4 linked regions of the Homo sapiens genome follow. The protein of the gene in region 3 purifies or fractionates together with the protein of the main gene of each other region. This does not show direct contact. Each region holds a gene or a part of one and is shown on either strand. Other genes may lie near its edges. The genes, in order: MIPEP, PPP2R1B, FOXS1 and ACOX1.

What was found.
Region 1: the proteins of FOXS1 (region 3) and MIPEP purify together in Homo sapiens (affinity purification with mass spectrometry; 3 studies listed by BioGRID and IntAct, with this or other methods). This does not show direct contact.
Region 2: the proteins of FOXS1 (region 3) and PPP2R1B purify together in Homo sapiens (affinity purification with mass spectrometry; 3 studies listed by BioGRID and IntAct, with this or other methods). This does not show direct contact.
Region 4: the proteins of FOXS1 (region 3) and ACOX1 purify together in Homo sapiens (affinity purification with mass spectrometry; 3 studies listed by BioGRID and IntAct, with this or other methods). This does not show direct contact.

The regions. Positions count from the first base shown.
Region 1 is NC_000013.11:23,837,389-23,844,413, forward strand, and holds part of MIPEP (mitochondrial intermediate peptidase), read right to left. Parts: intron 4,101-7,025; coding exon 3,947-4,100; intron 2,339-3,946; coding exon 2,261-2,338; intron 369-2,260; coding exon 164-368; intron 1-163. UniProt on the Homo sapiens protein: Cleaves proteins, imported into the mitochondrion, to their mature size.
Region 2 is NC_000011.10:111,742,365-111,749,389, reverse strand, and holds part of PPP2R1B (serine/threonine-protein phosphatase 2A 65 kDa regulatory subunit A beta isoform), read left to right. Parts: intron 1-1,375; coding exon 1,376-1,436; intron 1,437-5,859; coding exon 5,860-6,014; intron 6,015-6,724; coding exon 6,725-6,867; intron 6,868-7,025. UniProt on the Homo sapiens protein: The PR65 subunit of protein phosphatase 2A serves as a scaffolding molecule to coordinate the assembly of the catalytic subunit and a variable regulatory B subunit.
Region 3 is NC_000020.11:31,843,794-31,850,265, reverse strand, and holds FOXS1 (forkhead box protein S1), read left to right. Parts: upstream 1-4,661; 5' UTR 4,662-4,723; coding exon 4,724-5,716; 3' UTR 5,717-5,963; downstream 5,964-6,472. Other genes in the region: DUSP15 (dual specificity protein phosphatase 15), read left to right, coding at 392-528, 1,363-1,460, 1,701-1,862. UniProt on the Homo sapiens protein: Transcriptional repressor that suppresses transcription from the FASLG, FOXO3 and FOXO4 promoters. May have a role in the organization of the testicular vasculature.
Region 4 is NC_000017.11:75,976,147-75,983,844, reverse strand, and holds the start of ACOX1 (peroxisomal acyl-coenzyme A oxidase 1), read left to right. Parts: upstream 1-4,678; 5' UTR 4,679-4,771; coding exon 4,772-4,880; exon of another isoform or gene 4,881-5,054; intron 5,055-5,151; coding exon 5,152-5,311; intron 5,312-7,698. UniProt on the Homo sapiens protein: Involved in the initial and rate-limiting step of peroxisomal beta-oxidation of straight-chain saturated and unsaturated very-long-chain fatty acids.

The sequences.
Region 1 (7,025 bases), on a different chromosome or scaffold from region 3:
GGCTGCACAACCATGGGGAGGGCAGGATGAGGCAATCTGAGATAAAGACCACAGGACACGGTAAAATGATCACATTTTCCAAATAAAAAGCCCCTTTCCCAATTCAAAGAAAATGTATGTTTGTAAAGGACTGTAGTAAATAAAAGCCCTCCTCATGGCTCACCAGTGACGTGTTGGTAACGAGTACGTCCTAGCATTGAATGCATGGCATGTCCCATTTCATGGAAAAGATTTTCCATCATGCTAGGAGTTAGCAAAGTTGGAGAACTCCTTGAGGAACGGGGAAGATTCAGCATAAGAACTACAACTGGGAGTTGATAGTCTCCATCTTCCTTTAGTCTGCCTCCACGGATAGTGAAATGGCAATCCTTTAAGAATCAGAAAACATAAAAGGAAAAGAAAGTATTTGGTAATGTGAAGAGTAAAACAGTCTTAATGAATATAAAATTTCACCAAAAATGTGTGAGTGCAAACTTTAACTTAATTATATTCTTATTCTATCTATTTACATATATACACCTTTTCTTGACATTTTTTATTCTGCTAAAATTTTAATTTTTTAAAACATCAAGAACACATTCAGTTTCTATGGATTAACTCATTACTTTGGTCCCAAAACATGCATTGAAATGATGCTGTGCCAGAAGCTGGAAACAAAGTCAGCAAAGAACTTACGAAGGGACACTAACATTTATTCTGAGTCCCTACTATGTGTCAGATAATGAACTAGTAGGTACTTTCCATGTCTCTTGGCTATTTTTTTTTCTTTTTTTAAGATAGGGTCTTGCTCTGTTGCCCAGGCTGGAGTGCAGTGTTGTGATCGCAGTTCACTGCAGCCTGGACCTCCTGGGCTCAAGCCATCCTCCTGCTTTGGCCTACTGATTGGCTGGGACTACAGGTGTGCTCCACCACACCCAGCTAAATTTTTAGATTTTTTTTTGTACAGATGGAGTCTTACTATGTTGCCAGGGCTGGTCTTGAACTCCTGGACTGAAGTGATCTGCCAGCCTCAGCCTCCTAAAGTTCTGGGATTACAGGCATGAGCCACCGCGCCCAGCCTCTCTTGACTTTTATCACTTGAACGAGATGGGATCTAAACTAGTGTAAAGCAAGGGATCCGGAGCCAGAATAACTTACTCTGAAACAGGCACTACACTGAGACTCACATACACTGTATCACTTATTCTCCACAACAACCCTATGTAGCAGGTATCTCACTTTTCAGATGATAAAACTAAAACTAGTCTTAGGATTATTAAATAACATGTCCAAGGACACCTAGCTAGAACTGCCACACCTTGGATCTGAACCCAGGCTGACTATTAGGAGCCAGGGCTCCTAATCACTAAAGTTGAGTCTCCACCACCCACCCATTTAAGCAAAGAGGAAGAACACTGGCCTCAGAGTCTGGTGACCTGCACCCTGTTCCTACCTTTCACACCTACTAGACAAATCATCTCGGAAAATAATTTGCTTCTGCAAGCCTCATCTCTAAAATGCTTCCTTGTCAAATCCCACAGTGGCTGTCCAGAATTCATAAGCTCACATCTGTTAAAATCTGTGCTTTGGAAATTGTGAATCACTATTCAAACATAAGGTACATTATTTCTGTTATAACTTATAACCTAAACTCTTGACATTTCCCATCAAGCTACATGAAACTGCTAAAGCTGACTGGCTGTCAAAGTCGGCCAATGCTAAAGAAAAGGAGATGAGCTGCCTCAAGTCTTCCACATAAGGAGCTACTTGGTGGTTGGTAAGGTTTCCACATGGAGTATCTTCCGCAGTTTTAGAATAGGTTCATTGTCGAGTATGGAAAAGAGTTAAAAGTTGGGGATCTGCTCAGGATGTATGCCTTCAAGTCCTAGCACTTCTGGCCAAGTAGCTTAACCTCTATGGCTTCAGTTTCCTCATAATGTGAGTAACTAGTCAAAAGGGTGAGGCGAACATTAAAAGGCTGATGTGTATAACGGGCTCAGTGCACTGTTTGGCACAAATAAGGATTCATAAAATGTCAGTTGTCATTGTTACTATAATTAATACCATGACCCAGATAAAAGTGACAAATATAGACTGATGTAATTATTTCCATAAACTTTTTAATTTTAAAATTCTATCTTAATTTCAAATGTATATATTTGGTAACCATCATTAGTAACTTTTAAATGTCATGGAATTTAAAAAATGATACAAAGTTCACATCAATACAAATGAAATGCCGATCGGTTCTAGAGAGACCAGTTTATAAAGAAAGGATCACCTGATGTGGTTTGTCTGCTCGCTGAAAAAAATCACAGTAAATGTACCCCAACAATCCTTCAGATTCATGAACAACAGCCTAGAAAAAAAAATTTAAATTTGGTGGTAAATGAGGCCATCTGATTCTCTAAAATCCCTAACACAAGAATCTGTATATTAAACATCCATAGCCACACATATAGACATTTTAATTACATTCTACACCCCACATTATCTCGAGATAGATTCTCTTTTCCCCGCATCCTCTTCTGCTCCATCTCTTGAATGATTTTGGTTTTGGAATTCTGTGTCCAGGACAGGAAATCCTCCTCATGAGGGCCTTTTGTCCTGACTGCCTATCCTCTACAATACCTTTACTAACCACCCACAAGAGCTGGGAAGAAGTGCTGGCTGGACAATTTTAGGAGCAAATTATTTTTCCTTCAAATCCTGGAATGTCGTGATATACGCCCAAGCAAATTATAACCCTTGAATTTGAAAACACCACAATGCAGCTCCCAGCTTGAGTTAAAAATCAGCAATATTACTATCTATCCCCTCTCCAAGAGACATAGCTTATAGGAGAGACTCAATCACTACTCTCCATCTTGCCTTCTTTGTTCTTTCAGAATTTAATGATTCCATCAAAGAGAACCCCGATTTTGTGCTTTAAAACTACCTGCAAGTATATATTTATTGTTCATCAAACATCTGTTAAGCACCTACTTGGTGCCAGGAACTCTTCAAGACACTGAGGATACAGAAGTGAATGCAACTGACAACAGTGCTGGACCCCGGTGGAGTGCACATTCTGCAGTTCTGGGGAAACCCTTCATCACCCGCATTTTGTCCTCTCAGTCTCCTCTTATAAATTTTTCTTTTTATTATATCTCAGCATTTTATCAATCTCTATCTTTTTTGGAAGTTTGTAATACAGATAGTGAAGTAAATCAATGCAGTGATGAACGTCCTCCCACCCTGACTCTCCTTTCAATCCCACCACCACACCTACTCTCCACTCACAAGACGTGGCCGAGAGACAATGAGACTGTTTACATTTCTTAAAATATAGTGAAGAAAGCAGTGTGGTAAGCATGCTAGCAAAAATCAAACAACAAAACAATACAAAGCCTTAGTGACACACACAGGTCAACAAAGCCTCAAATCCTATGAGGAAAAATTTAAAATATTCATGCCTCATATAAAGTGGGCCTTCACAGGAGAAAGATGATTGCTAGGTTTGAAGTTATTATCAAAGAAGTTAAATAAATCAGAACACGGACGTAAATTAATATCTGATGCAAATATAAGCCCCTACAACATGGGATGGGGGTTGGAGAGAAAAAAGGTCACTTATCCAATGGATTTGGGAATTAACCAAAACGGACACACAGCTATGAAGGTATATACAAAGTAAAGGACAATTTTCCTATAAATAGAATTTGTGGATATATGAAGGTGCATATATATTCAACCTTCTATCAAGTTCCAAAAAACTTTTTTAGAAAACTCTGCTGTTTTATGTTTGGATCCTTTATACAGTGTCTTAAATCAGAAGTGCAATTTGGATTTTTTTTGTGAAGCAGAAATAAGGCAGGGGACACACTCAGTCAGGGCAAAGTTGATGTAAACCTGAAACTGCTGTTGACTCAACTGCCCAACCGAAAGGTAAATGCCTGCAACTGCAGGCTGAGCAGGAGGAGCTCACCAGTTTTCGGACATCTTCGCTCCACACCTCTCCTTTTGCAGGCTGCTCTGCATATAATGAAATCCCCAACAGTCTGTTAAGCAAAATATTCAGGCCTTCCATGCATGCTCCAAGAGAGAAAAACGGGCAATATAGGCTGGGCTCAATATTATACCTAAGAGAAGGAAGAGAGGTTCAACAGCATCTTTGTTTATTTCAATTTCTGAAGGTAAATTCAATTAACTTTTCATTTAATACTTAAGATCACTGGAGCTAAAGAAGGATTCAAAACATAAAAGTGTATTTATATCATTTGAGGGGTTTTCAGACAGTTTTCTTCAGAATGACAGTCTGATTATTACTAGTGTTAGTTATAAGTCAGTAATTAAGGTAGATATATCATTCCCTAACCTTTGTCCCTTCCCTGTTATTTACTCTTTCACTAACCCAATTAAGCAGTCTCAACTGCTCACTGTATACATTCCTTATACATACTTACATGCAAAATATGATCAGTTTCAGTTATAATGGTAACTCTTACCTTATGAATTATATTCTAGAAACTTGTGACCTATATACATAAATATTAAATGAATAAAAATCCTGAGGCACATTAAGTGAATTTAAAGTTCTCATCCAGTAAAATATTCATTTATGAAAAAAATGCCTGCAATATAAATAATCAGATCTTATCTGTTTTATAGTTAGATATCTTAAATTAAAGACAACGTAACTAGTAAGGTGAATTATTCTTCACCCAAAAATAACTTTTTCTGTTCTATATATTCCAATATAAACCAAAGCAAATCCAAAATACGTGATTTGAATGTTTACATTTGAATCATTAAGTCAAGCCAAAATATATAGCCATAGCCAAAAATAATGGCTCTAGAATATTGTAGGTTCTCATTATATGTCTACTTTTTAGGATTACCAAAATACACATTTTTTTTTCAATTGGCTTTATTTGTGATTCTAGAACTGCACAACACTTCGTTCCATAAAATGAGTCCCCACAACAAATTTATATATAAAAATATAAAAACATAGTTACTAATAAATGAATGAGTTTAGTAAGTGAACATAAATTGCACAACAAATGAGACTTTGGCTATGGACATCCACAAATTTACACCTTAATTTCTGACTGATTTTTCTTTAAACAGAATCCTAGTGTTGAAAGAGACGTTCATGATCCAGTGCCCTCGCTCCCTGGTTCGTTCACTCAAGCATGCTGTCAGCAAACCTGCGGGGTGCTGGAAGAGAAGAATGAAGAGCCTTTGTGTCTAAGCAGCTGGCACTGAAAGAGGCAGAGAAGTGAACCAACTACACTGTGTCCTGGGCCTGGTGCAGTGGGCACACGGCTGGCGCTCAACAGACAGTGCTGAAGCATGAACGAATGAGCACTGCAAAATGGGAGGGCAAAGGAGAGCATGATGACTTTACTTGTGGAGTGCAGAGTAGCACCAGGGAAAGCTTCTCGGATAGGAATCAAGAAAGAATCGGCCGGGTGCTGTGGCTCACGCCTATAATCCCAGCACTTTGGGAGGCTGAGGTGGGTGGATCATGAGGTCAGGAGTTCAAGACCAGTTTGGCCAACATGGTGAAACCCCGTCTCTACTAAAAGTACAAAAATTAGCCGGGTGTGGTGGCGGGTGCCTGTAATCCCAGCTACTCGGGAGGCTGAGGCAGAGAATTGCTTGAACCCAGGAGGCGGAGGTTGAGTGAGCCACGATTGTGCCACTGCACTCCAGCCTGGGCGACAGAGCAAGACTCTCCATCTCAAAAAAAAAAAAAAAAAAAAAAGGAATCAGACTTTGCAAGGCAGGGCTGGGATGAGGAATGGAAAATGGGAATCATAATAGGAATTCTAGGCAGAAGCGACAGTATAACTAAAGTATGATGGCATAAAATAGCCTGGTAACTTCTAGAAAGGATGTGGTTAAAGATGAAGCAGTTACCAATGCAGGGATAAATGTAGAAAGAATGGGAGCGGAGTCTGGAAAAGGCAGGCAGGGGCCAGAAAACAGAGGGCCTGGTCCACTAAGCTGAGGAACTGGGACCATGCACCATAGGCCATGGCCTCTAAGCTTCCTCACCAATGCACACTAAAATAACTTTTGAGTATTCAACCTTCTATTAGTACACTCATAAAGTATATGCATGTGGTATTGTTTTATCACATTGCAAAAAGAAAAGCAGACATTTTTATAAGTTGAGATAAAGAAAAATAAATATACATAGAATTTCTAATATTTTATGACTACACTCTCAATGAATTGCTTACAGATGCCATTTGGGAGACAGCTTCTGTAGGCCATAGGGGAGCATCTGATGTTTTCTGGAATGCTGCACAGTGGACAGCATGGAGGGTGGAATGCAGGAGGCAGGGAGGGCTGACAGGAGGACAGACTTCCAGGCTTCAGAGGGTGAACTCTGACAGAGGGCAGTGGGGTCAGGGATGAATGTGTTTTTCCTTTGAGATGCAAACGTCTCAGGACTGTGTGAGTGATTGGATTTGGAGGGTGATGAGAAAGACAGAACAATCTAGAATAACACTCAGGTTTCTGGCTTGGACAAATAAGTGGATGGTAGAGTCACTGAATCAGCCGGCACAATGAACACAAAAAAGGAAGAGGGGAATCTGGGTGTGTTTGTGGGAGAAGAGAGGAGGGTGAGGTGCAATGATGGGAGGAGGATGGAGGGCTCACAGAAAATAAACTCCATTTTGGAGGAACCGACTGTGAAGTGCCCATGAGATACCAGACACTCAGGACCCAAAGCTAAGGAGAACAAGGAGACTTCACTGTACAGATATTAGAGCCATAGAGGGAGACAGGGCCATTAGGGAAGGGCGATGCGGGCAGAGAAGGTAAAGGGCAGACCCCTGAACTACCAGAGGGAGGGGTGGGAAGGAAGACACAGAACAGTTCAGAGGTACTGAAGAACTGAGAGAAAGGAGTGCATGGAAAGAGGGGAGAAAATAAACTATAAAAGGAAGTGGTCCAGGCTTGAGGTTTCCACTCCTGCACATGAGGAGGTTGAAAGTCACCACTCCATCCTAACAAGCAGGAAGCTGAACAAGCTGAAAATCAAGAAT
Region 2 (7,025 bases), on a different chromosome or scaffold from region 3:
ATTGCTTGAACCCAGGAGGCGGAGGTTGTAGTGAGCTGACATTGCACCACTGTACTCCAGCCTGGGCGACAGAGAGAGATTCCGTCTCGACAACAACAACAACAACAACAACAAACTGGAAAATAAAAGTTAATTAAAACTGAAGGAAAATTCTCAACCTGAAATGAAAAAGAAATCTTGGCTGACGTAATCTAAGTGTATGCCAAAATTTGTTCATTATGATCTTTTAGTACAAAGCAATTTTGGGCCAGGTGCGGTGGCTCATGCCTGTAATCCCAGCACTTTGGGAGGCTGAGGCGGACGGATCATCTGAGTCAGGAGTTAAGAGACCAGCCTGGCCAACATGGTGAAACCCTGTCTCTACTAAAAATACAAAATTAGCTGGGCATGTGCTGCATATCTGTAATCCCAGCTACTTGAGAGGCTGAGGCAGGAGAATCACTTGAACCCGGGAGGTGGAGGTTGCAGTGAGCTGAGATTGTGCCACTGTACTCCAGCCTGGGCAATAGAGTGAGACTCCATCTCAAAAAAAAAAAGCTATTTTGTCTTATTCAATCACTATTTTCAAAGCACTGACACATTATATTACCTCTCTTTTTTTAAAATATAGAATCACCAGTCAGGAACTTCTTAGAGTTCAAAGAAGCAAGACTGTAAATGTGTAGACCCCAGAAGGGAGGCACTAGGAAAGTGTGTCACAGCATTCTCCATGTGGTGTGGAAGCCCCGGGGTTAGAGGACTGTGTAAATCTGCTCCCGGAGCCCATCCCCAGCCTGCACTGAAGTGGCCACCTGTTGACAGTCGGGAGGAACAGGGCTGGGAGAGCAAGCCATGCCTGGGCCATATGCCCTGTAGTCCTGGGCCTGCTTTATTCTCCCTCCAGGGCTTTCTCCTGTTGTCTCGAAAATACTCTCTTTAACTGGGGATATCTCTATGTCTTGAGGTCAGTTGCTTTATCCTTAAGGATTTGTCATAATAGTAACCAAAAAGGGAAGACGATTGAGAATTAGTAATATTACTGACAGGTGTTTTCCTGGGTAATTCATTTTTACAGGTAATCCAGATTTGCTTGGCAGACCATACACAGTGCATTCTTCCTGCTCTTTTGCAGTGTTGTGGCTGACTTCTGGCCACCCTGTTCTCTTTTACCTAGCAGGGCCTATGCCAGCTCACGTATGCTTTTTTTTTGTTTATGATTTCCGTCCAATAAATAGATTTATGGTTTGTTTGTAATTCCTGTGGTGTTTCTATCTCTTATTTGTTTATTTGGAAACAAGTTTTTTTAGCCTTCAGGTAACCTTGGTGTAATGTAAATAGACCATCTTTATTTCTGAATTTTGGCAATGTATGTTAATGGAATCTTCTGTATCTGTAGGGTGTGGAATTCTTTGATGAAAAGCTGAATTCTTTATGTATGGCTTGGCTCGTGGACCATGGTGAGTAGATAAAAACAGATTATTGAAAGCCCATATATCCATGATTTTCATACATTTCCTTTTAGAAAGGAATCTCAGTCTGACCAGATATTTTGCCTTAATATTGTAGGAATGAAGAAAGGCTCTAATTAAAGTTTAATCTTCTGAATATAAATTTGACGTTTCTACCAATTTTTTGTATCTTCGATTTTATTTTCTCCATTAAACAATTTATTTGCATTATTTTCTTACTCAATCTATTACATTATCTTCAGACCATCTCTTTTATATATCTACTTACTCCTCCCTTATCTGAAGATCCTCTTTTTGACCATCCTGTAATTGGTGTCTTCAGCAGCTATACACTAGGTTGTATGGAGATTGGAATCAGATGAAAGGCCTGGGTGGGAGAAATGGCTACTTGGCTTTTTGAGGTGACATAGAAGAGGAGATCTACAGTGAGACAGTAGAGGATTCTTAGGTGTGGGAAACACTAGCTTTGCCATAGGGAGAGAGAGGGCCTGGATTTCTGGTTTGGGTGAAAGGAAGGCTTACTGCTTGTACTCTCACTGCTGCTGCTACAGTGCTAGGAGAGGGTGAGCTCAGGGCAGGTCAGATAGGACAGCAGGAATGAGCAAGTGACTTCCTGGTGAGGCTTCAGGTAGAGGTATATGTGTGTATCCCCTTGTGTGCCAGGCAGCAGTGGGTGACAGATGTACCGTCTCTGCCAGATCCCAGGTCCAGACTTGACAGCTTCAGTGTTGTCTTAGACCTGTTTCGATGAGTGTGAGTGCCCCTATGGGGTCATGTGACATTGTCCTTGAGCTTTGTTTCCATGTTTTGGTGGATATAATAGATAACCTGAGTCAGTTCCACAGTATCTTTTATATACTTGATATATGTATTTAGTGTATCTCTTTGTTCATCTATGGGTGCTTATGCCTGGAAATTTGGGAGGAATGAGGATATTTGTGTCTGCTTATACGTGTGGGTGGTTTTGTTAAAGGCATGTTTGCATCATATGGAGGATCATATGGTTAAGAGTGTGAAGAGGAAGGATGTGAAAAAATATGTGAAAATGTATAAGGGCTTATATATGTGGGTATTTCCAGTGTTTTCAAACTGGATTGTAGACTTCTTTCTCTTTTTCTTCTCTAAAGTTATCTTATTGTGGCCTATTTATTTCTTTTTAAATAAAATTAAAATTTGGCAAATCATAGGAAAGAAATACCACTTTTAAAAAAAATGTTTATGTTATATCTGATAAATATTTGACGTTACTGGGAATGGTGCATCCTAGCAAATCATTCTGTGCTTTTTTAAATTTTATTTTACTTTAAGTTCTAGGATACATGCATAGAACATGCAAGTTTGTTATGTTACATAGATATACATGTGCCATGGTGGTTTGCCGCATCTATCAACCTGTCGTCTAGGTTTTAAGCCCCACATGCATTAGGTATTTGTTCTAATGCTCTCCCTCCCCTCGCCCCTCACCCCCTGATAGGCCTCAGTGTGTGATGTTCCCTTCCCTGTATTCATGTGTTCTGATTGTTCAACTCCCACTTATTAGTGAGAACATGTACTGTTTGGTTTTCTGTTCCCGCGTTAATTTGCTGAGAATGATGGCTTCTAGCTTCATCCATGTCCCTGCAAAGGACATGAACTCATTCCTTTTTTATGGCCGCATAGTATTCCGTGGTGTATATGTGCCACATTTTCTTTATCCAGTCTGTCATTGATGGGCATTTGGGTTGGCCTCAAGTCATTCTATGCTTTCTTTAAAAGTTGGCATTTTAGATTAAGATGGTGTTTTATTTTGAGGAATTTTTAAAGTTCTAATATTCCACAAAGAATTAAATTCCTGGCACCCTTTCTCTGTAAGATTGTCTTCTCTATGCAACTTGATTACTCCTTCCTCTTTTCGGATTTTCTCTTTCAGTTTGGGAGCAGGAGAAACCCTTGTTTATTTCACTGCAGCAGCATGCTGAAGTGGGGACTGCAAGAGTTCCATGAACCAATGAAATAACAGCTCTGAAATTGTTTTGTACTTAATCACAGGAGCTTTTTTGCTTTTGCATTTCAGATAAGTGTTATATAATGATCACTGGATCAGTTAGAGTTTTTGAAACTTTTCCCCTAGTTAGGTAACTACTAAAAGAACATTGTGAAAATTCCAGAGAAGTATAAGGAAGAAAGTATCACTCACCTATATTCCTGTGGTTGAGTAGACAGTTTTGATCAGAGGGAGGAATGTAGAAGGGAAATTTATTTATTTATTATAGGAGAAAGGAGAAGGTATCAGTTATTGAGCATAGATAGACATTCAAAGAAACCTTGCAGGTCAGCCAGGCCTTGAGAGGAGATGGGGAGAGAGAAAGAGACAGAAATAGACAAAAGAAAACAGGCAGAACTCTGGAATGGTTTGCATTCTTCTGAAAACAGTCAGAGGAACCAAGAACATAGTAGGCATCTGGCCAAGTAGAGTTCAGTGCAGTTAAGGTCTTGGTCAAGGCTATGCATGTGTGTTCCCCAGTCTCTGGTTTTTCTGGCAGTAGAGATCCCTTCCTATGGTAATGGCATTATGATAAAAATCTAAAGCGTGTTAAAAAAAATAGTAATTTGCTGAGCATGGTGGCTCATGCCTGTAATCCCAGCACTTTGGGAGGCTGAGGCGGGTGGATGACTTGAAGTTAGGAGTTCGAGACCAGCCTGGCCAACATGGTGAAACCCTGTCTCTACTAAAAACACAAAAATTAGCTGGATGTGTTGGCGGGCGCCTGTAATCCCAGCTACTCAGGAGGCTGAGGCAGGAGAGTTGCTTGAACCCAGGAGGCGGAGGTTGCAGTGAGCCGAGATCTCGCCACTGCACTCCAGCCTGAGAGACAGAGTGAGGCTCTGTCTCAAAAAAAAAAAAAAAAAAAAAATTAGAGGAGAAGACACAAATACTCTAGCTAGCTCCTCTTTAGTGGGGAGGACAGGGAAGGGTTTGGGCCAAAGACAAAGACTATGGATATGAAGGGAAGGAATCTGTATTACAGTAAAACAGTTGACTTGAGTTTGCTCCTTAGTGCATCTGAGTCTTACCGAAAGGTTGCTTCTCCTGTAGACTGTCAGTTTAAGTGTTGATAATCAGTTGTATGGGTCACTTGTCTATGCTGTCTTGCTTGTTCTCAACATCATTGCCCAGAAGGATCTATGAATAGAAGAAGTTGCCTATTTCTTGGTTGGAGGCTTGTATAAATTGCCTAGGACTGGGACTGTGGCTTGGATAGCTATTCCTGCCCTTCCTATCATCCCAGGAAGGTTGGGCCCACCTGGGGAGAGAAGTAGAATAAGGAATTAGTACCTACCACCCTCGATTTGTTAATCTGAGCCCAAATTTTGAGTCTTACTGGATCTGTAAAGTGAAGTGACACCAGGCTTGTTTTTGTTCAGTGCTGTATATAGCAACTAATTGTGAGAGGATTGTAGCTGAGACCTTTATTATCTAGCTTTATGTCTTTGATAAATGATCAAAGGATATAGGGAATTATTAGATGTTAAGGCAGGCACATTGATTCAAAGACATTTGACATCTTGTTTCAACCTAAGCATTTTCATGGAGAGGAAGCAAGTCAGTCTGATGTTTGTATTTGCTGTTGTATAGATGACCACAGTGGCCTCTACACCATTTCCTTGTTGTCTTTCTCAGTCAACGTCGCTTCTCCGTGATGTTGCTGGAATAATCTTGCTAAAATTCCACATTGGTCATCAGGTCACAAGTTTGCTTTAAAAACCCATCACTGTTTTTCCTAATCAAATCTAAGTCTTTCATAATGCTCTGCAGTCTGGGTCCACCCTAATTGTCTAACTTAGAAGTCTCACAGGTTTCAGTTTTTTCTGTTTGTGTCCTGGATACATGTCTTTACCCTTTCTAGGAATTCCTCCCCGCTTCTCTCCACTTACACAGATCCTCCCAAATCTTCACTGCCCAGTCAAGGCTTCTTTCTGTGCCGAAGCCTTCCTAGACCTTCCCTGTTCACTCTTCTCTGCACTGCTACAACCCTCACAGCCTTTACTACACAATGCCACACTTCATTCTAATTGCTCTTACACCATGTGACTTCATGGAGTGTGTTAGCTTTCATTTCTCTGATAAGAGCATATTTCTTGTGAGGGAAAGTATCTTCTGTGTTCTTTTTGTAGCACATAGTAGGCACTTGTATTTGTTAAATAATTGATGATGCATATGGTGAGCTCCTTGCATCCCTTTTCTGTGGATATGCACACTTGGAAACTGAGTTGGAGCTGAGCATGCTTGTCATTGCAGCATGATTACATGTGGAGTCTGATTGCAGAGGGGTTTTGCTTTTGGTCCACATTTGATTTTCATGTAAGTAAACTAGGTTATGCTTAAAAAACAATAAGCGATATGAGAACATGTTTTTGACCTCTTCTGCAGTATACGCCATCCGAGAAGCTGCCACCAACAACCTCATGAAACTAGTTCAGAAGTTTGGTACAGAGTGGGCCCAAAATACTATTGTTCCCAAAGTGTTAGTAATGGCAAATGATCCTAATTACTTGCATAGAATGACCACTTTATTCTGCATTAATGTAAGTATAACATAACTGTTATTGCTAAGCTTAATCATTAAAGCAAAATTATTCATGACTATTTCTGAATTATCAGTATACTGTCTTCTATTTGGAATATATGTCTTGTATTGATTAATTGGAATAGACAGGAGATGAGAGAAAATGTCAATTTTAAAATTCATGTTAAAATCTACAGTATTGGCTGGGCACAGTGGCTCATGCCTGTAATCCCAGCACTTTGGGAGGCTGAGGCGGGCAGATCACCTGAGGTCAGGAGTTTGAGACTAGCCTGGTCAACATGGCAAGACCTTGTCTCTACTAAAAATACAAAAATTAGCCGGGCATGGTGGTGCATGCCTGTAGTCCCAGCTACTTGGGAGGCTGAGGCAGGAGACTCCCTTGAACCTTGGGCAGGGGGCAGAGGGTGCAGAGGTTGCAGTGAGCTGAGATCGCGCCACTACACTCCAGCTTGGGCGACAAGGCAAAACTCCGCCTGAAAAAAAAAAAAACAAAGAACAAAACTACAGTATTTTAAAAGTTCAACTTATTTGTGAATTCTGGTCTAATTCTCTGATCATTTGAATGATTCTTGTGTCCCCCACTCAGCTGCTCAAACTAGAAATATTTTCCTATTGGTCAATTATTTTCTTATTAAATATTAATTTGTTTCATTAGATTTTGGAATTTTTTAAAGTATTTTAAATGTGCCATCTTACTTATTTTTCTAGGCACTGTCTGAGGCCTGTGGTCAGGAAATAACTACTAAGCAAATGCTGCCCATCGTATTAAAAATGGCAGGAGACCAAGTAGCAAATGTTCGCTTCAATGTGGCCAAATCTCTACAAAAGATTGGACCAATTCTAGATACCAAGTAAGATTTTAGTGTTTAGTCTTGTTTTAAAAGTGTACTTTAAATTTTACCTTATAGTGGGGAGTAATTAGCTAAAATTAAGTTCAGGGATTTTCACTTTACTTAAGATCTGGGTTTGCTTAAAGAAAATAATTTAGCAACTATTTTTGAGGATGTCC
Region 3 (6,472 bases):
CACTGAGCAGGATTGCTGGTTTCTCATGAGACGCTGCTAGGTTGTTGTTATTGTCGCTGTTATGGTTATTTCTACCTGCATCAAAATCTTTGCTGGGAGGAAGCTCCTAGAATCCCAGAAGATTTGCTGGGAGGGTCATGCCCTCACTGTACAGATGGCCCCAGCTTTTAACCGCAGAGCTCGACTATCAGTTCGTTTATACTGGAAGCTATTGTTTACTACTATTATTACTAGAATTCTTATCATCACTGATAGGGAGAGAGCACCCAAAATTTCCGAGGTAGAGGCTGGGACGACCTCTGGGTCCGGCAGAGTTTGAAGGGGAGGGTAAGAAGGCGAGGGGAGCTAGCGCCGCCCACGTCCAGCCCGTGCACCCTCTCTCGCCCCACAGCCTGCTGGCTGCACGTGTGGCTCTTCTCTCCGCAGCGCTGGTGCGCGAAGCCACCGGGCGCACAGCCCAGCGCTGTCGTCTGAGTCCGCGGGCGGCCGCCGAGCGCCTGCTGGGGCCGCCACCTCACGTTGCAGCAGGTTCGCTTCCCCGACCCATTGCCCAGCGCCCACGTGTTGCAGGGCCTGCCGCCTCACCTGGAGCGCGGTGTGCAGCTCTGGGTGGCTCCGGAGGGCGTGTTCACCAAGCGCCTGTGCCAGGGCCTGTACTGGCGCAGCCCAACAAGGTGGAGCGCAGGCGCACCTGCCACCTGCTGAACACACGCGGCTTCCTCCAGGCGGTAGGACGGCTGGAGGAGTGGAACAGAGTGGCGTGGGAACGGGGGCATAAGGACGCGGTGGGCAAAGGAACATGAACAGAGGAGAGTGGGCACATTAAATGCAGGCCCAGGGGGATGGGCCTAAGGGTGCTGGGCATGAAGTGGACATTGACACAAAGAATATGGCACAAAAGCACCAGGGATGGGAAAGAATACAGGCACCAGGAGGGCTGGGGGCACATATACGGATACAGGCGTATATGGGGTGCTGGCATGGAGAAGGCTTGAGGCGTTGGGTGTGCAGCATAAGAATAGGGCTTCGGTACATGTGTTGGCTTAGGGCATAAGGTGGATGTGAGGTGCACCAAGCACGAGATAGGTATAGGTGAGTGGCAGTGGGCATGGGTTGGGCATAAAGGCATGGGGTGGGCATAGGGGCCAAGGAAGAGACATAAGACCTGGAAGTGGGCACAGATGTGGGACATGGGACAGGCATAGGAACGTGGAAGTGGGCCTAGGGTACAGGCACACAATGGGATGTGGGCTTACAGGACTTGGGCATGGGAAATGAGCACAAGATGGGCACCAGTGGGTTGCCTAGTTCTTGCCCAGTCCCTATAGTCTCAGTGTCGTATAATTGTGTGCCCACCTGCAGGATGGTCACCGGACCCAAAGTACCAGATCTGTCTGTGCTTCGGTGAGGAGGACCCGGGCCCCACACAGCACCCCAAGGAGCAGCTCATCATGGCGGACGTGAGTCACTCCTTCCACTCCAGCCAAGAAGCACGCCCTCCAGTCCCCTCCAGACAGCCCTTCCCACACTCCCTCCAGTCCCAGCTCTGCCTCTGACACTTCTAGCACCCTCGGGTCTGTAGGACCCTACCTGGAAAATGGGGGTAGGGATGGGGCTGTAACTAGGGCTGTGACTTCCCATGGGAACATCCGAGGCGGGAAATGGAGAGGGTCTGCTCATCGCCCCACCCGCCCCCGCAGGTGCAGGTGCAGCTTCGGCCTGGGAGCTCGTCCTGCACTCTAAGTGCCTCAACCGAGCGCCCAGATGGGTCCTCAACCCCTGGCAACCCCGATGGCATCACTCACCTTCAATGCAGCTGCCTCCATCCTAAGCGAGCCGCTTCCTCTTCTTGTACCCGCTGAAGGCAGCCCCCAACAGGGGGGCTCCCTACTCCCACCCAACCCTGCCCACACTAAGCCCATAGACTTGGGGCCTCCCCCGGCACATCACCCAGGTCTGCCGGACGGCAGAGGTGGATCGCGGCCTTCCACTCCTCTGTCACGGGGCCCCGGAACTCGAGAGTAGGCCACACCGCCCCCCAGCTGGGCATGGGGCTTCGGCAGGAAACTGAACTTGATCTTGAGGCCCCAGAAAGGCAGCAACTGGAGCAGAAGCAAGACTTCATCTCTTGCTGACAGCCCAATTTGTCAATAGCGCTTTCCTCAGAGCCAGCCTTAACCTGCTGTTGAGTCCATTAAAACGTTTGCTTAAAGTTTTTACCAATAATTAGATCATCAGGGTTGTTTAGTGTGGGATCAAGCCATAACAAAACTGCCTAGCCTCTCAGGGGCCTAGAATTTACAGAACCTTCCTCCTCCCTGCAGCTAGTCTCTCTTCTTTATTCTGGGGGCTGGGAAGGATCCCAAAACAGGGAACTTGGCCGAACCCTGGGCTTTGGATGCTAACCACTGAAGTACCAGCACCTGTAGGATGCTGTCTTTGAAGAAACTGAGGCGGACCTCCAAATGCAGCCCTAAGGCAGAGGTCAACGTGGAAGACCAGCCCTTCTCCAAGCCCCACTGGTCTTTGCAAGCTGTACGTTGTAGGCAATCTGAGAACTGGAAAGGGGGACTACAACCAGAAAGTTGGTTACCCTGCCATGGGAATAAAGTAGCTGTTTTCCACCCCACATATCAGGCCTTTTATTCTTTTCTGAGTTCTGATTTTATTTATAGGAATCCTCTTACAGATGCCAATATTGTAAGTCTCTTTTAATGATACATTAATAAGCCACCTTCATGGGGGGAAAACTGTGATTCGATAAAGGACAGAAATCAATCAATTGCTGTTTGTTTAGTCATTTAGCAGACATTTCTTGAACACCTACTCTGTTCCAGGCCTCTGTTCCAGTGTCCAGTGTGTGACTCTGGGGGTACAGCAAAACAGCATGCTCTTTACTCTCTTGGAGTTCACATTCTGTTTTCTAGTGGGGACCCAGCGACTCTCCGCTACCCCTGCCCCTCACTGAAGAGGCAGTATTTAGGAATTACAGAATCCTAGGCTCATATCCAGCTTTGTCACTCACTAGATGTGGGACATCAGGGAATTTACTTACCTTCTCTGAGCCTCAGAGCCCTCATCTATTCAAAAGAAGCAATGAAGCCCTCCAGAGCAGGGTTGGTTGAAGAAGTAAGTGTAGGGTTGGGGAGGTGAGCTGGCCTGGTACAGAGTGGGTGAGCAGTGACTTGGGAGTGGGAGAGCAGAGAGGATGCCGTCCCCTCCTCCAGAAGGCCTGACTGTTCTGGGCCTGACTCTCTGGACCTCCCGACCCCAGGCTGCAGCTGGGGTAGCCTCAGTTCAGAGTGACAATCCGCAGCCATGTTCATATCCCTACTCCATACTAGGCTCTTGATGAGGGTGCTGCATTCTGTGTAAGGGGAACCTGTTGCCTCCCCACCATGGCCTGGACAGCTGAGGAGTCACCAGCTCCATGTTAGAGATGGGGAAACTGAGGCTCAGCCAAGGTCTTGAGGTGCCTCTTGGGAGGGAGAATGTCTCTCCCCAGATAGCTGTCCTTCCCACACCAGTCACTAGGGGGCGACAGGGATGCAGCAGAACTGAATTTCATGGGCTCTCCTTACCATCCTAGGTGCCCCTCCCTGCAGACACCCCAGAGCTAGGAGGATGGGGTAGGAGTGGTGTGGCCCCAAGGCCTCTGCACCGCAGGAGAAGGCAGTAGACCACAGGCCTGGGAGAAGAGGGAAAAGCAGGAGTAGAGGTAGGGATTAGAGAAGCCCCTGGGGCTTCTCTCACTCTAGGGGGACTGGGCTCAGGCCCTGCCTCTCTCTCCTCTCTCTCTCTCTCTCTCTCTCTCTCTCTCTCTATTCATTCCTTTCACTCCTTGTGTTTGCACCTGTGTCTCTCAGTATCTCCTTTCTCTCTGGCTTTGTGGATTTCCTTGTTTCTGCCTGCTCAGTGATTCTCACTTTCTCCGTATACTACGTGTGTGTGTGTGTGTGTGTGTGTGTGTGTCTGTGTCTGTGTCTCTGTGTTTCTGTGTGTGTATGTCTCTGTGTGTCTGTGTATGTGCTTGTGTGTGTGTCTGTGTGTATGCCTATGTGTCTGTGTGTGTCTGTCTCTGTGTATATGTGTGTGTGTGCTTATGTCTGTGTGTGTGTGTCTGTGTGTGTGTCTGTGTCTGTGTGTCTCTGTGTGTCTGTACGTGTATGTCTGTGTGTCTCTGTGTGTCTGTACGTGTATGTCTGTGTGTCTCTCTGTGAGTGTCTGAGAGGCTCTGGGTGTCTCTGTCCGTTGTGTCTGCCTCTGTCTTATCTTTGTCTCTCCCTCTTTCTCCCTCTTGTGATGTCTCTACCTCTCTCTGTCTCTATCTCTTTTTTCCCTGTCTCTGTTTCATATGTTTCTGCCTCTGTCTCATTTTGTTTTTGTCTCTGTCCCGCTCAGTTTCACATCCTGTCCCTCCCCAGCCACCACCACCCAGCACACGTGGGCTGAGGGTCTCAGTCCCTTCCTTCCCAACTCCTCATCCCTGGCAGCTGCTCGGCTTCCCACTACTGGCCTCTCCTGCCCGCCTCTTTTGGGCCTTGTGGGAGTGGGGCGAGGGAGGAGGGGAGGATGGCTCAGCAGACCCACCCCTTTTTGCCTTTCCAGGCTGGGAGGCTGGGCCAGTGGACCTTTTAACCAGCCTGGGCAGGCTATTCCGGACGCCAGCCCTGGAAGCTGAGCCTGACCCAGCAGGTCCCAGCAGCCTGGCAGCCCGGCCAGCATGCAGCAGCAGCCTCTGCCCGGGCCTGGCGCCCCCACAACTGAGCCAACCAAGCCTCCCTACAGCTACATCGCCCTTATTGCTATGGCCATCCAGAGCTCACCGGGGCAGCGGGCCACCCTCAGTGGCATCTACCGCTACATCATGGGCCGATTCGCCTTCTACCGCCACAACCGGCCCGGCTGGCAGAACAGCATCCGCCACAACCTGTCACTCAACGAGTGCTTTGTCAAGGTGCCCCGCGATGACCGCAAGCCAGGCAAGGGCAGCTACTGGACGCTGGACCCTGACTGCCACGACATGTTTGAGCACGGCAGCTTCCTACGCCGCCGCCGCCGCTTCACCCGGCAGACAGGTGCTGAGGGCACCCGGGGCCCCGCCAAGGCACGCCGTGGACCCCTCAGGGCGACCAGCCAGGACCCAGGAGTCCCCAACGCCACGACCGGCAGGCAGTGCTCATTCCCACCAGAGCTGCCAGATCCCAAGGGCCTAAGCTTTGGGGGTCTGGTGGGGGCCATGCCAGCCAGTATGTGCCCAGCAACCACTGATGGCAGGCCTCGGCCACCCATGGAGCCCAAAGAGATTTCCACGCCCAAGCCTGCATGCCCAGGGGAGCTCCCCGTGGCCACCTCATCTTCCTCATGCCCAGCGTTTGGCTTTCCTGCCGGCTTCTCAGAGGCTGAGAGTTTTAATAAGGCCCCTACGCCCGTCTTGTCCCCGGAATCAGGCATCGGGAGCAGCTACCAGTGTCGGCTGCAGGCACTGAATTTTTGCATGGGGGCTGACCCAGGCCTTGAGCACCTCTTGGCCTCAGCAGCCCCCTCCCCTGCACCACCCACCCCTCCAGGCTCACTCCGGGCCCCACTGCCCCTGCCAACTGACCACAAGGAACCCTGGGTTGCAGGTGGCTTCCCTGTCCAGGGAGGCTCCGGCTACCCATTGGGGCTGACCCCCTGCCTATACCGGACGCCAGGAATGTTCTTCTTTGAGTAAAGGCAGCCTCACCTCGGGCAGTCCCTGCAGGTCCCTCACCCTCCGGGCTGAGCCTGGCTCTAGGACCTGAAGAACTCTCGAAGGACCCAGCCCTGGTGAGCCAAGGACAACCACACAGAAAGCCAGGATTGAAGCGGTGCTCAGCCAGGCCCCTGGGGCCTCCGGACAAACTTGGGGGTGAGGGGAAGCAGGGCCTCTTGGGATTTACTCTGTGGCTCTCAGGGCCAATAAAGCCATGTGATGATGAGGGTCAGCTTGCCTGATGGCTGGGGGCTGAGGGCCAGGGTGCCTGCTTGTATGTGGGGGTGGCTGTGGCTGTGGGGTTGTGCAGCGGGGGCAGAGACCCTTGGTGGGAATATCTCACATGAGGTTTTCTCCTGCTGGGGACTTTCTCAGGGAGTTTCCTAGAAAGGGAGAGGAAGGGGAGGTAGGGAATGGGGAGCAGGGAGAGGAGGATACAGGCAAGGGAGAGACTGGGCAGGGGCAAGACTGGGCTGGCCTGAGGGACTGATTCTCCAGTCTCAGATGCTGGGACTTAGCCCCCGTAGGTGCAGTCATCATAACCCTGACAATTTGTGACACTGATCCTGTCCCGGGCTTGTATGTATCATCTCACCTGTGTGATTTGGAAAGTTGGCCCCGTTTACAGTGGTGGAAACAGGCTCGCCAGCTCCAACTCCAGAGGGCAAATGGGTGGCAGAGGGTAAATCAAAACCACATCTGTGTGGCTCTACCCTCCAGCCTCTGACCTGCAGC
Region 4 (7,698 bases), on a different chromosome or scaffold from region 3:
CCCACCCACCACTCCTGCGGCCCCCCTCAGAGGTGACTCAGCCTGCAGGAGGACCATTTGCCACACCCCTAAGGTTGCACCCCCAACCAATCAGCAGCAAGCACCCATTGCCTAGCTGCCACCACCCCTTCCCCGAAACTACATTTAAATAATGTCTAATCTCTGAGCCTTCCAGAAGATTGACTAATAATACCAACTCCCACGTGGTGTGGCCAGCCTTGTGTCAATTAGTCTTTCTTGACTGTAATGCCATGCTCTCCATGAAATGATTTCGTTTGTGCTGTGGGAACCCATCAGGTGGTTATAGAGGTGGCATAGGCTATGAAAACACTGGTTGTCTAAAACAGGGGGAGATAACAATTATGAAGGGCTAGTGTACACGAGTGTGTGCTCACTAACATGAGGGGACTAAAGGAGTGTCCCCACTAGATGTTCCTGTTTTTCTGGTGGATCTGGGGAAAAAGAGGTGGGGAGGATGCTGGGGTTGCTATGCAATTCTCACCGAGGGAGGAATTTGCTGGTATAATGATTATACATTTTTCTTTCTTTCTTTCTTTCTTTTTTGAGATGGAGTCTCGCTCTGTCTGCCAGGCTGGAGTGCAGTGGCGGGATCTCGGCTCACTGTAACCACTGCCTCCCGGGTTCAAGCGATTTTCCTGCCTCAGCCTCCTGAGTAGCTGGGAATACAGGCGTGTGCCACCATGCCCGGCTAATTTTTGTATTTTTAGTAGAGACGGGGTTTCACCATGTTGGCCAGGCTGGTCATGAACTTCTGACCTCAGGTGATCCACCCACCTCGGCCTCCCAGAGTGTTGGGACTACAGGCGTGAGACACCTCACCGGGCCTCTTCCTTTTTTCTTTCTTTTTTTTTTTTTTGAGCCAAGGCGGGCAGATCACTTGAGGTCAGGAGTTCGAGACTAGCCTGGCCAATGTGGTGACACCCCGTCTCTACTAAAAATACAAAAATTAGCCAGGCATGATGGCGGGTGCCTGTAATCCCAGCTACAGGGAAGGCTAAGGCAGCAGAATTGCTTGAACCCGGGAGGCGGAGGCTGCAGTGAGCCGAGATCATGCCACTGCACTCCAGCCTGGGCGACAGAGTGAGACTCTGCCTGAAAAAATAATAAATAAATAAATAAATAAAACTATGATCAATGCTTGAGCCTAAGAGTTTGAGGCTGCAGTGAACTATGGTTGCGCCACTGCATTCTAGTCTGGGTGACAGAGCAAGGCCTTGTCTCAAACAAAACAAAACAAAGCAAAACTATGATCAAATACATGTGTATGCCTTTTCTCCTATTAATCACTTGTGTGGTATTCCTGCCAAAAATGCATCATCTGAATCTAATCATGAAGAAATATCAGACAAATCTGAATTAAGGGACATTCTACTGTAGGTGCCAAGGGGCCCTCTGAAGTTTCGCTGCAAAAAATCAACTTACAAAAGGCAGAGTAATAGTCAAAAATGTGTACAAATTTATGTAACATGTACATATGGGAGCCTTCAGAAGGAAGACCCAAAGATACAGGGGAAATTGTACATTTTTATGCAAATGATTGAACATAAAAGGTATGATCTAATGCTGATAGACTGAGTGGGGAGGCCCAGCAAGGCCTGTCTGTCTAGATTCTTCTTGGCCTCTTGGAACAGGCATTCCTTCCTTCTGGGTGTGGGGGAGGACCCTCTCTGGAATGGAGTCTTATGGCCTACAGTCAAACAAGCTAGGTCAGATAATTTCTTTTTGGCCAGTTTTTACACCAAAAGAAGGAGGGAAAGTTAAGAGTAATATATTTAGGGTTTTTTTTGTTTGTTTTTTGAGACAGAGTCTCACTCTGTCGCCCAGGCTGGAATGCAGTGGTGCAATCTCGGCTCACTGCAACCTCTGCCTCCCCGGTTCAAGCGATTCTCCTGCCTCAGACTCCCGAGTAGCCGGGACTACAGGCACATGGCACCTCGCTCGGCTTTTTTTGTATTTTTAGTAGAGACGGGGTTTCACCGTGTTAGCCAGGATGGTCTCGATCTCCTGACCTCGCTATCCACCTGCCTTGGCCTCCCAAAGTGCCAGGATTATAGGCGTGAGCCACCGCACCCAGCTTATATTTAGGGTTTTATGGCTGGCTTTGGGGGTAAATGACTCTGTTTTCTATGACCTGCCTTGGGGAAGAGGATTCTAACTTCTCTGGCTAGGCTCGGGGGAGAATGCACCTGAGGGAGAGGAGGACAGAAGGTAAAAAAAAAAAAAAAAACAACTTGCTTTGTGGGTTGCTTCTGAGGCCTTCATTTTGGGGTATTGTTTTCTGAGACCCAACACTACAAAACAATGGGCTTATACACTTCAAAAGTGTTAATGTCAGCCAGCCAGGCGCAGTGGCTCACGCCTGTAATCTCAGCACTTTGGAAGGCTGAGGCGAGCGGATCACATGAGGCCAGGAGTTGGAGACCAGCCTGGTCAACATAGTGAAACCCTGCCTCTAATAAAGACACAAAAATTAGCCAAGTGTGGTAGTACATTCCTGTAGTCCCAGCTACTCTGGAGGCTGAGGCATGAGAATCATTTGAACCCAGGAGGCGGAGGTTGCAGTGAGCTGAAATCATGCAACTGCACTCCAGCCTGGGTGACAGAGGAAGACATCATCTCAAAAGAAAAAAAAAAAGCGTTAAAGTCACAGAAGAAAAGTTCTTTGTTCTATTCTTGTAATTCTCGTGTAAATTTGAAATTATTTCAAAATAAAAACTCAGCAAATTTAGCTCTTCATCTAAGTCTTTTCTATTCAATGCTAAGTACACCCCTTATCATTGTTACATTAAGAGCAATTGGTTTCCTAGAATATTAGAACTAGAAGGTCAGCTGTCAAGCAGCCATTTGTTCACTCCACAAAGATTTCCTGAGCACCTTTAGCGGGGCAGGCACTGTGCCAGGTACAGAGAATAAACTAGACACCCTCTCTGCTGTTGAAGGGGCCTGAGATCAGCAGCTTAATAAGACAAATGAGGATCCTGAGGTCCTAGGGGTTAAGAGTGTGTATTATAGTTCTATTATTCAAATTATGAATGTTATGCATCTCTCGTAGTTTTACTTCTGAGAAAACCAAAGTCATAGTATTACACAGACTACAGACAGGCTAGGCGCAGCGGCTCACGCCTGTAATCCCGGCGCTTTGGGAGGCCGAGGCAGGTGGATCAACAGGTCAGGAATTCGAGACCAGCCTGGCCAACATGGCAAAATCCTGTCTCTACTAAAAATACAATTAGCTGGGTGTGGTGGCGAGCCCCTATAATCCCAGCTACTCGGGAGGCTGAGATAGGAGAATCGCTTGAACCCAGGGGGTGGAGGTTGCAATGAGCTGAGATCATACCACCACACTGCAGCCTGGGCGACAGAGCGAGACTCCGTCTCAAGAAAAAAAAAAAAAATGACTAGAGATGATTCAACAAATCCCTGAATCTCCCTTGTCTACAATCCCACTGGGCAGAACTGTTTTTGTTTTTTGTTTTTTTTCTGTAGAGACAGGGTCTCACTATGTTGCCCAGGATGGAGTGCAATGTCACAATCTTGGCTCACCGCAACCTCCACCTCCGGGGCTCAAGCCACCATCCCATCTCAGCCTTCAGAGTAGCTGGGACTACAGGCGCATGCCACTACACCCAGCTAATTTTTTGGTATTTTTTGTAGGGATGGGGTTTTGCCATGTTGCCCAGGCTGGTCTTGAACTCCTGGGCTCAAGTGATACGCCCGCCTCGTCCTCCCAAAGTGCTGGGATTCCAGGCGTGAGCCACCGCGCCCGGCCCTACACTAGGTTTTAACAGTAAGTGTGCATTTCCCACTTTGATGACGGTGATGGCGAAAGCAAAGAAGTCTGGATTCCAAGACCTCTAGTAACTGCCAGGTTGCGGGGGAAAATGTCTGGTTTCCCAGACAGAAGGCTTAGAGCAGCACCGCCCGCTTGGTCTCATTCTAAGTCCCCGTCCACCCCTTGAACAGCGCTCACAATCCCACACCCAGGGCCCCGGAACCCACGCCTCTGCCAGTAAAGACGCCATTATCTTAACAAAAGGTAACTGGAGCCTCTCCCCAAAGAGACTGGTTCCCGTCCCATTCTTCTCCAATCCGGGTGGATTTGGCAAAAGCCCAAGTGACCCTCCCTAGCAATTCCGCAAAGCCCCATCTCCCGCCCCAGACTCCAGAGTCTCCCGACCACTCTCATTTCGGAGAGGCCTAGGGGCACGGACCCGGAAGCGTGACAGAGGCCGCGGGGTAAGAGGGGGGCAAGTGCAGGCGCAATCCCTCCTCAGCCTCGTTGTCCCGCCCCCTTCCCAAGGCCCCAGCCAACCTGTTCTAGGCGTCGCCGGTCCTCGGATTTCTTCTTTCCGCCTCGCGTGGTCACGTGACGGGGGAGGGGCGGGATACAAAAAGTGCTTTATTTTCCCACTCCCCGGACGCCCAGCAGGGCAGTTTCTTGACCTTCGGAGCCCCTTTCCCGAGGATCCGCTCGGGAGCCTCCCCTGGCCAGGAGCAGGGGATTAGTCTGCCCCGCGACCGGCCCCAGCCACGACGCGGACATCGCCCCCTCTGTCTGGGCCGCTGTCACTCACGCGCCAAAGGGCCACGGAGAAAGAAGGGGCGGGCCGGGGCGGGCCGGGCGAGCGGAGGCGGGGACTTGCGCCGTCCTGAGGCTGCCTCCTAGGGTCCGGCCGGCGCTGGAGCTGCGGATTTAGATTGTCACTGCCACCTCGGTCGGTGCTTACTTCGCTGCCAGCTGGTCGTCGCCATGAACCCGGACCTGCGCAGGGAGCGGGATTCCGCCAGCTTCAACCCGGAGCTGCTTACACACATCCTGGACGGCAGCCCCGAGAAAACCCGGCGCCGCCGAGAGATCGGTGAGGGCGGCGGGCGAGACCTCCCTCCTTTCCCGAGAAAAGCTGGAGACTCCCTCGATGCGGAGTCAGGGGCGCTGTGGGGCCTAGGCCCTCTGGCCCAGCGTTAGGGGAGCCGGGACCCCCACTTCGAGGAACAGCCTGTGTCCCTGGTGGGGGGATATCGCCATTCCCCAGGTGTGTCCGCGACTCTGAAGCCTATTGTGATTCAGGGAGGGTGGAACGGAGGCCCGAGTGTCTGTCTGCCTTTTAATGCCCTTTAACCCCCTTTCAGAGAACATGATCCTGAACGACCCAGACTTCCAGCATGAGGACTTGAACTTCCTCACTCGCAGCCAGCGTTATGAGGTGGCTGTCAGGAAAAGTGCCATCATGGTGAAGAAGATGAGGGAGTTTGGCATCGCTGACCCTGATGAAATTATGTGGTTTAAAAAGTAGGTATGCCTTAGAACAGAGCAAGTGTTGTTAAGCCTAAACTTTACAGCTGCGGTCTATGGTGGCCTTTCATCACCGTGCTTGGTGTTTGAAGATGCAAACTGGCATATTTTCATGCAACTTTATAAAGTTATATGTGTGGCCGGGCGCGGTGGCTCACGCCTGTAATCCCAGCACTTTGGGAGGCCGAGGCGGGCGGATCACCAAGTCAGGAGATCGAGACCATTCTGGCTAACACGGTGAAACCCCATCTCTACTGAAAATACAAAAATTAGCCGGGCGTGGTGGCGGGCGCCTGTAGTTCCAGCTACTCGGGAGGCTGAGGCAGGAGAATAGCGTGAACTAGGGAGGCGGAGCTTGCAGTGAGCCGAGATCGCGCCACTGCACTCCAGCCTGGGCAAGAGTGCGAGACTCCATCTCAAAAAATAAATAAATAAATAAATAAATAAAGTTATATGTGTGAAAAATAATGTGATCACTTTTGTATCCAAGCCTTTTCGTGGGATGACGTGTTTGTAGAATGCTGATAATAAATGGAAATGCAGGAGTTTTTGTTCTCAAGAGTACAGTTTCAAGGATGTTGTAAAAGCATTGTTCTGCCCAAGCAACTCAAATTTGACTGATTTAAATGCAGAATCATTTTGCTCTTTGTAAGGAGGACTGCTAAAATTCTGAATCTGGGAGCATTTTTTTTTTTAGTTGCACGACCATTTAAATATTTTGGAGCAATAGCAGATTATATTATATGGTAGTGTGGACCTGGATGAAGAATGATCTGTGACGCCTCTGAATGAATAGAAAGTCTAAGAACCCAGTAGTTCTGAATCCATGACAGTGCTTGAATGGTTGTCTTGTGCATATGAGAGAGACGTCATAAAAACCTGCCTTGGTTCTAGTGTGGAAGAGAGTATATCCTTTTTTCAGACCATGTGTTTTGTTGTGTTTTTTGTTTTTGTTTTTGTTTTTTGAGACGGAGTCTCGCTCTGTCGCCCAGGCTGCAGTGCAGTGGCACGATCTCGGCTCACTCCAGCCTCCACCTCCCGGATTCAAGCGATTCTCCTGCTTCAGCCTCCTGAGTAGCTGGGATTACAGGCGCCCGCCACCACACCCGGCTAATTTTTGTATTTTTAGTAGAGATGGGGTTTCGCCATGTTGCCAGGCTGGTCTCAAACTCCTCACCTCGTGATCCACCCTGCTCCACAAGGAACGGTAAAAATAAATAAAAATAAGGACTTCGGGCCGGGCACAGTGGCTCATGCCTGTAATCTCAGCACTTTGGGAAGCCAAGGCAGGTGGATCACTTGAGGCCAGGAGCTCGAGACCAGCCTGGCCAAAATGGTGAAACTCTCTCTACTAAAAATACAAAAATTAGCCGGGCCTGGTGGTGCGCTTCTGGGGTCCCAGCTATTCAGGAGGCTGAGGCAGGAGAATCCCTTGAACCTGGGAGGCAAAGGCTGCACTGAGCCGAGATCACGCCACTGCACTCCAGACTGGGCAACAAAGAGAGACTCTGTCTCAAAAAAAAAAAAAAAAAAAAAAAAGACTTTTTTGCCTTAACCTAAACAAACACTATTACATGATCCTAGTACAAGATTATTTTGGCCTATAGCATTTTTTTCTCATTTATTCCTGGGCATTTTCTCTTTTAGGTTTCTCCATTTTAAAGGAACTCCAGTATTTTCATCGGTAAAGACTAAATCGTATGAGTGGTGTATAGACTAGAACCAAGCTAAATAGAACATGTTGCACGTTCTGCCTTTATGGTAATAATGGTCACTGCCTCTAGTGCCTTTGGTATCGATTTTCAGCTTGACTTGGGTTATTTTTGTGAAGATGAAATGGTTTACTCTGGCACTTTGGACTTTCCTCAGAGCTCCACTCAGTTTTAAACGAAAAAATTTTGTTTATTTATTTTTGGTAGTTCAAATCAGCATACTTCCAAATGGTCTGTTTTGTTTTTGAAGTTTGTAACTCATGGCTGTGGGGATATTGAGATAGAGTAACTCCTCCTAGAAGATTATGTTACTGATACCTGTGTTGTGTTTGTAAATTTGAAAAAATTAGTAAGATTTTATTCCTTCTTGAAACGTCAGGAAAAAAGTGGGTTGAGTGTGTGTGTGTGTGTTTGAATGGGTGGTGCAGTGCATTTCAAAGCTGATAGAGATGATTTCATAACCTGTGACCTGTTGATAATGTGAACCAGACTCGAGTGAGGTCACAATGAAATAGAACAAAGTCTTTTATGCGGGTTAAAGATTCATGGACACCGGGAAGTTGTTTTGTGTATCATTTTTCATGTGAAGTATTAAAGTACAAACTTTAACACACCCTTTGACACACTTCCAATGTCCTTAGGATATGACAAGGAGATCAGTTTTTAAGTAAG